Linked DNA regions of Homo sapiens: region 2 is linked to region 1. Evidence: fine-mapped expression QTL. A gene starts in region 1. The other region holds a variant in brackets. All regions are shown on one strand. Distances are between the middles of the regions.

What was found. PIP is the estimated chance that this variant, and not a neighbour inherited with it, causes the effect.
Region 2: its variant is the best candidate, but not a certain one, in a credible set for the expression of SNX33 in whole blood (INTERVAL, PIP 0.81).

Annotation. Positions count from the first base shown.
Region 1 is chr15:75,645,963-75,648,861 of GRCh38, forward strand. It overlaps SNX33 (sorting nexin 33), which reads left to right and starts at 1,950. Exons shown (of 2, transcript NM_153271.2): 1 at 1,950-2,899. RefSeq lists a silencer at 1,569-2,108 and an enhancer at 1,734-2,425.
Region 2 is chr15:75,685,084-75,687,982 of GRCh38, forward strand. It overlaps CSPG4 (chondroitin sulfate proteoglycan 4), which reads right to left. Exons shown (of 10, transcript NM_001897.5): 3 at 2,193-2,899; 4 at 136-618. Among named protein-coding and RNA genes, the nearest start is that of CSPG4, 26 kb to the right of the region's middle. RefSeq lists enhancers at 1,098-1,603, 1,604-2,108. The variant A/G (reference allele first, on the strand shown) is at 1,196.

The sequences.
Region 1 (2,899 bases):
GGGGTCCTAAAAGCACGTGGGGAAAACGTATATTCTGTCTTAGAGATGCTAGGACGAACTGTCTTTAGAATGAAGGCTGCCCCATGACAGGAAGCAAGGTTTTAAGGTTACTTGACTGAGAGACTCCTCATACCCTTTCCCCTCTTGGGGGTTCCAGACTCACTGAGCTAACTTTCTGGTAACTGGGCTTCCCAAGGGGTAGCCCAAACTGCCTTGATCTATTGATGCAGAAATTCAGTTCTGCTTGACAGTTTTATTTCTCTGTGCAAATTGATACCTAGCCTTCTGGGGTTTGTACATAGGCCTTTATTCTGGTCAAATGCCAGACCTGCGAAGGGAGTCGGATCCACTCACTGAACCAGTGAAACTGGGTTTTGGAGCCAGAGGTCTGGGAACCATGTCCCTCAAAACAGCCAAAGGTATCCATCTTTAGCAGAACTACCTTGTACCAGTTAATCTGCAATAAGTGACTAGGGAGAGAATGAAGGGAAGATCTAGCTAGACAGGGTAGACAAGACTCCAGGGTATAGCCAGGAAAGGGAGTCCTCCTGAAGCCTTTGCCTCATCTTAGGCACTTCCTCCTTCAGGAAGCTTTCCTTGATCCTTGCTCTACCCAGGCTGGGGTAGGTACCCTCATGTGCACTTTTCATGGCACTAACTAGTCACACTGGGCAGGGAGCATTTGTCTACTTGTCACAACATATCTGAGCTTTTGGAAAATAAGGATAATGTCTTATTTGTCTTTGTAGCTCAGGGGCCTGGTGCAGAGTAGGTACTCAGTTAATGTTTCTTGAGTGCATGACTTGGCTGAATGAATGACTGAGACAGAATGGATTGATTAAAGACAAGAGAGGGTGGACTGTAAGCCCCCCAGGATAGAAACCCCGACTGCCTTGTGGTGTACTACTCCCCAGTGCCCAGCACAGTGCCTAGCAGAATCAATGCCCAAAGTGTTCCCGATATGCTGACCGAGGGTCAGATCCCACTTGCCTCTTCTCGAAGATTCTCTACCTGACCACTTCTCTCCTTGCTGCCGCTGGCTAGCACAGAACATCCAGTCCCCGCTGCTGTACTAAGCAACACGGAACCGGGTGGCACCTAGACTTGTTCCCTGTCGCTGCAGATGTAGAGTAGTGTCTTTCCCTCCTTCCAAGCTAGTCGCCCAGGGCAGGGTCGCCCTGTCTGGCTAGGGTGCTGCACCCGCAGCTCTCGGTATCTTAGGTCAGACGCCTGGAACGCGCAGGCCGTTTCTGTTCCTCCGGAAAACAATCTCTGAGCTGCGCCACGACCCGTCCCTGCGGAGCAGGAGTGGGGAATGGGAAGGTGGGAAGGCGAGTCCGCGACTCTGCTCCCCAACCCCAGCTGGCGCGGCGGCTTTCCACGCACCCCCCTCCCCCCACCCCGATCTCCCGATCCTGGCTCTGGCGCGGTGCTCCTTGCAGCCCCACGCTTTGCAAACTTTCGGAGTTTTACTCCATTTGCGTCACGGAAAAGGCAGGAGGATGACGGAGTCCAGGAAGCGAGGCAGCGGCAGCTGGCAAGCTCCCCCGCCGGGCGCTCCAACCACGGGGGCGTGAGGTGTCTCCCGGCGAGGGCGGACAGGCGGAGGGAGAGGAGGGGAGGTGGCGGTCCCAGGGACCAGCCCCGGAGGCTCTCGGGCCCCCTCGTTCCCGGGTCGTTTCCTCCCTCTCGCCTCCCGGACTGAGCGCCAGCGAGCGAGGGCGCTGGCCAGCTGGGAAGCCGCGCGGAGGAGTAGGCGGGGGCTCGGCTGCAGCGCCCCGGGCCCGCGGGAGGGCGGAGCTGGCCGTCCCTGCCCCGCCGGGACGCACGGAAGTGCAGCGGAGTTTGCCCGATTCTCCAGCCTGCTTCCCCCTCCCTCCTCCCTCTCCCCACCCCTCACCTCCCCTTTGGCGATCCCCTCCTTCCTCAGGACGCCACCTCCCGGAATCGCCTTTTTGTTTTGGAGCTGCCTTCTCGCTGGCGGAGCGGAGGGTCTGCGAGCGCCGGGGAAGGCAGGCTGGGGGCGCAGCCCGCCCCCCACTGGCCGGGCCCCGCAGGGCGGAGAGGAGGACGGACGGACAGACGGCTGGCCGCGCCATCTGCTCGCCGGAGCTCACTCTCCAAACTCCAAACTGTTGAGTGTGTGCGTGCACGCGAGGGTGGTGATCGGGGGTCGTAAGTCCCGGGTGAGGAACCGGTTTCTGCTGGGGTTACCTTTGGACGGGGTTCCTGGGATTCAGAGCAGGGTCAGCGTCAGGCTCAGAAACTGCTGAGGAATTAGGCAAACAAAAGAGACCACTCAGCGAGTGGCTAGAAGTCGCCCGACAGCCTCGTCGCGCCCCCTCCTTCCTCCGGGGTTGGGGCTGGCCACTTCTGGGGCGGGGAGAGGGCGCCCGAGCCGGCGGGGGCTCCGGCTGCGCAGCCGGGGTCGAAGAGTTGGCGGCCTGTTGTGTAAGCCTCAGTCCTTGTTTTCCCGGCCTGGCTCGTTGTGAAGCCGGACACATCCACCCTTGGACTCGATTCAGGCGGCTGCTGCTTTTCTCCTTGCCCCTCTTGGATTTTCCGGATTTTTGAAAACCCAGTGGCCCAGGAGCAAGAGGAGGAAGGAGGAAGGGGCAGATCTGCAGAGGAATGTGAGAGCCTCCCAAAGCGAGAGCCGCCAAAAGAATCTGGGAGCCAGAGGGACAGCCGAGCCCTGCCCGGGTTTCTGGAATGGTGGTTTCAGAGTGAGTCTCTTCTATTTTAGAACGTTGTTCCAGTGGAAAGTGTCGAATTTTTCCCCTCGCAGGGCAGATTTCTCCAGGTCACTTGACTTTTCTTCTGGGAGTAGGAGTTAGGAGAGATTCCCCTCTAACCCCCCAGAGGCTGCTAAGGGAGGAGGAGACTGTGGACATGAGCC
Region 2 (2,899 bases), 39 kb after region 1:
AAAGCATAGGTGCTTCTGAAATGTGACTCCCCGTCTCCTCTCTGTGTATAACCCCCAGACTGGGAGTCCCCAGGGCTCCCTCCACTCTGCCCCCAGAGCTGGGCTGCAGCCCCTGGGCCTCTCTCACAGCCATACCATTCTCCAGGAGAAGGCGCTGAGGGTCCTGGCTTGAGGTCCGTCCTCCTTCTGCAGGGCTCCATGCTGGGGTGGCTCCAGCACCTGCAGGCTGAGGCCCAGGAGAGTGGGGAAGTAGGGCCCGGAGACACGGAGCAGTGGAGGGGCCAGGGTGAGGCTGCCACCCTCAGGGACGCTGAAGTTTTGCGCCTCTAGTGGGATGGCAGCGGGCAGCACCTCCAGCTCCACAAGGACGCCCTCGAGGGGAGCACCCAGGCCTGAGGCCACATCCAGCGAGAAGGCATCGCTCCAGGCCTCAGGGCGGGAGTGCAGGTACAGGACCCTGCCTGTGTCCACTGCCTCCTGGGAGAAGCTCTGCACAGGGTCCAGGCTGGGTGGCTCATCTGCCAAGGCGCCACGCGACACCATCACCAGGTAGCCGGCACTCGGTGGGCTCTTCACTGAGAATACGATGTCTGCAGGTGGCACTGCCTCCTGGGCTGCCTGGTTAACAGAGGTCACAAGGACTCACAGGGGGCCACAGAGGGGGTCTCAGAGGGGTCCACTGTGGCCCTAAGAAGCCGGAACAGGCTTGATCTTGCCCCACTTATTCCTCTAGATACCACTGCTCATTTAGACACACAAACACACACGTGGGTTCACACACACAGCAGCCAGACATGCAGCTGGTCACATTTTTTGTTTTTTGAGACAGGGTCTCACTCTGTCACCCAGGCTGGAGTGCAGTGGTACAATCACAGTTCCTTGAAGCCTCAACTTCCCAGGCTCAAGGGATCCTCCTACCTCAGCCTCCCAAGTAGCTGGGACCACAGGCATGTGCCACCAGGCCCGGCTAATTTTTAAATTTTTTGTGTAGAGATGGGGTTTCACTGGGTTGCCCCGGCTGCTGGTCACATGTTAATGCCCACCCCACACACGGTTGCAGGGGGTCGGTCACACAGCTTGAGATGCACTCCCTCAGGGAGGTGCATAATCACATGTCCCCAGACTCAGTGACACAGACACACGAGTTCATCATATGCTGACGCAGTCACACATGTACACATGCGTGTGTGCACAC[A/G]CACACACACAGGCCCCCCTGCTCAGGATCCGTTCAGGCCTGTGGCTGGTTTGCAGGCAGCACCTCCCCAGCCCCTGCTATTACCACCCAGGACCATCAGAGGGCGCCCCGCCCCACCCCTCCTGGAGGCACAGCCGCCTTCAGCTCAGGCCCTACAGAGCTCACGCCCCAAAGGCCACACGGGCTCCCTCACCTGATGGGCCAGCCACAAGAGGCCAAACCACCCCCCAAACTCACATTCCTGTTCTATGCATTTGCCCGGAATGTTCCTTCTGCCTGGAATACCACTCCCCATTCTCTGCTCCTGATGGCCTGTGCTCTTCAGAGCCCGGCCCAAACGCTGCCTCCTCCCGCGAGGCCTTCCTGACTCCAGATCTGCTGGCTTGCTGTCGGCCCCAAGCTCCAGACATGCAGACCAGAAGGGTCTCCGAAATGAGCAGTGTAGGAGAGTAAGGCCAAGAGCGGGCAAGGACTGGCCTGAGGTCACAGGGCAAGTCAGTGAGCCTGCTGGAGGGCCCGTGGTTGCTCTGTGGGGTTCCTGGGTGGGCAGAAGCCACCCAGGTCTGGGCTCTGAGAAAAGAGTGGGGGACATGAGGGTCTGAGGAGTAGCGGCCTGTCTCCACGGTCAGCAATCCCCAAAGCTCAGGACCCGTGATGTCCTCCCAGGGAACTGACTGCAATGGAGATTCTCGGGCTCCACGTCAGAGATTCTGTAGGGCTGGGTGGGGTCCAGGAATCTGCATGCTCAGCCATGTCATACACATGAGTGGACACAACCTCTGGAGGCGCACACAACTCCCAGGAGGATGGGTGTATAGCAAGCTCCCCAGAAACTCCTGGGAGCACAACATATACGGGAGCACATCTGAGGCACGTGCACACATGTAACCTGGAGCCACCACAGCCACAGCCCAAGTCACGTGTGTTCCTGGCATGGAGGCTGGGAGAAGGCCCTCTACCTGGCCCACACCCCTGCTCACCACCTCCAACTCCTCACCTCCAGCTGGTCCCTTCTGATCTCAGCTGCCTCTCCCTGGAAGACGTAGATCTTCTTGTGCCGGACCAGCTTCAGTGGGGCCAGTGGGCCCTCTAGGGCAATGGTCACTTGTAGGGTGGCATCCGTGTGCACTGGCCCTGCTTCCACGGAGAAGGCCATGGTGTCGCGGGGGCTGAGGCTGCCATTGTGGCTATAGAGAACGGCCCCATCCAGCAGGTCCTGCTGGGAGAAGGCTGTGGCTGGCTGACCAGCCCGGACTAGCTGTCCCCAGCGAGGGCCAGCTGTGACGTGGTAGTGGACCTCATCCCCACTGCGGATGTCGAGGTTGGTGTCCAGGTGGAGCACGGCCGTGTCGATGGTGCCCTGGCCTCCTTGAGGGACCACAAGGCTGGAGCCGTTGGCCACACGGAGGTAGGGTTCCGAGGCCTGCACCTCCAGCAGCGCAGTGGCCTGGTGTTGCCCGTCGGACACCTGCAGCTGGATCCAGCCACGGTCAGCCCCTGAGTGCACGAACAGTACTCGCCTCTTCCTGAGGTCCTCCTGGGTGAAGCGGTAGATGGGCCGCGTGGGCTCATCTACGGCCACGATACTGCCAAAGAGGAGGTCCTTGCGGGTAAGCACCAGCTGGGCGTCAGCAAAGCCCGAGTCAGCATCGCTGAAGGCCACGTCGTCTGTAGTCAGCAGCCGCCGCCCACCCCGGGCCACAT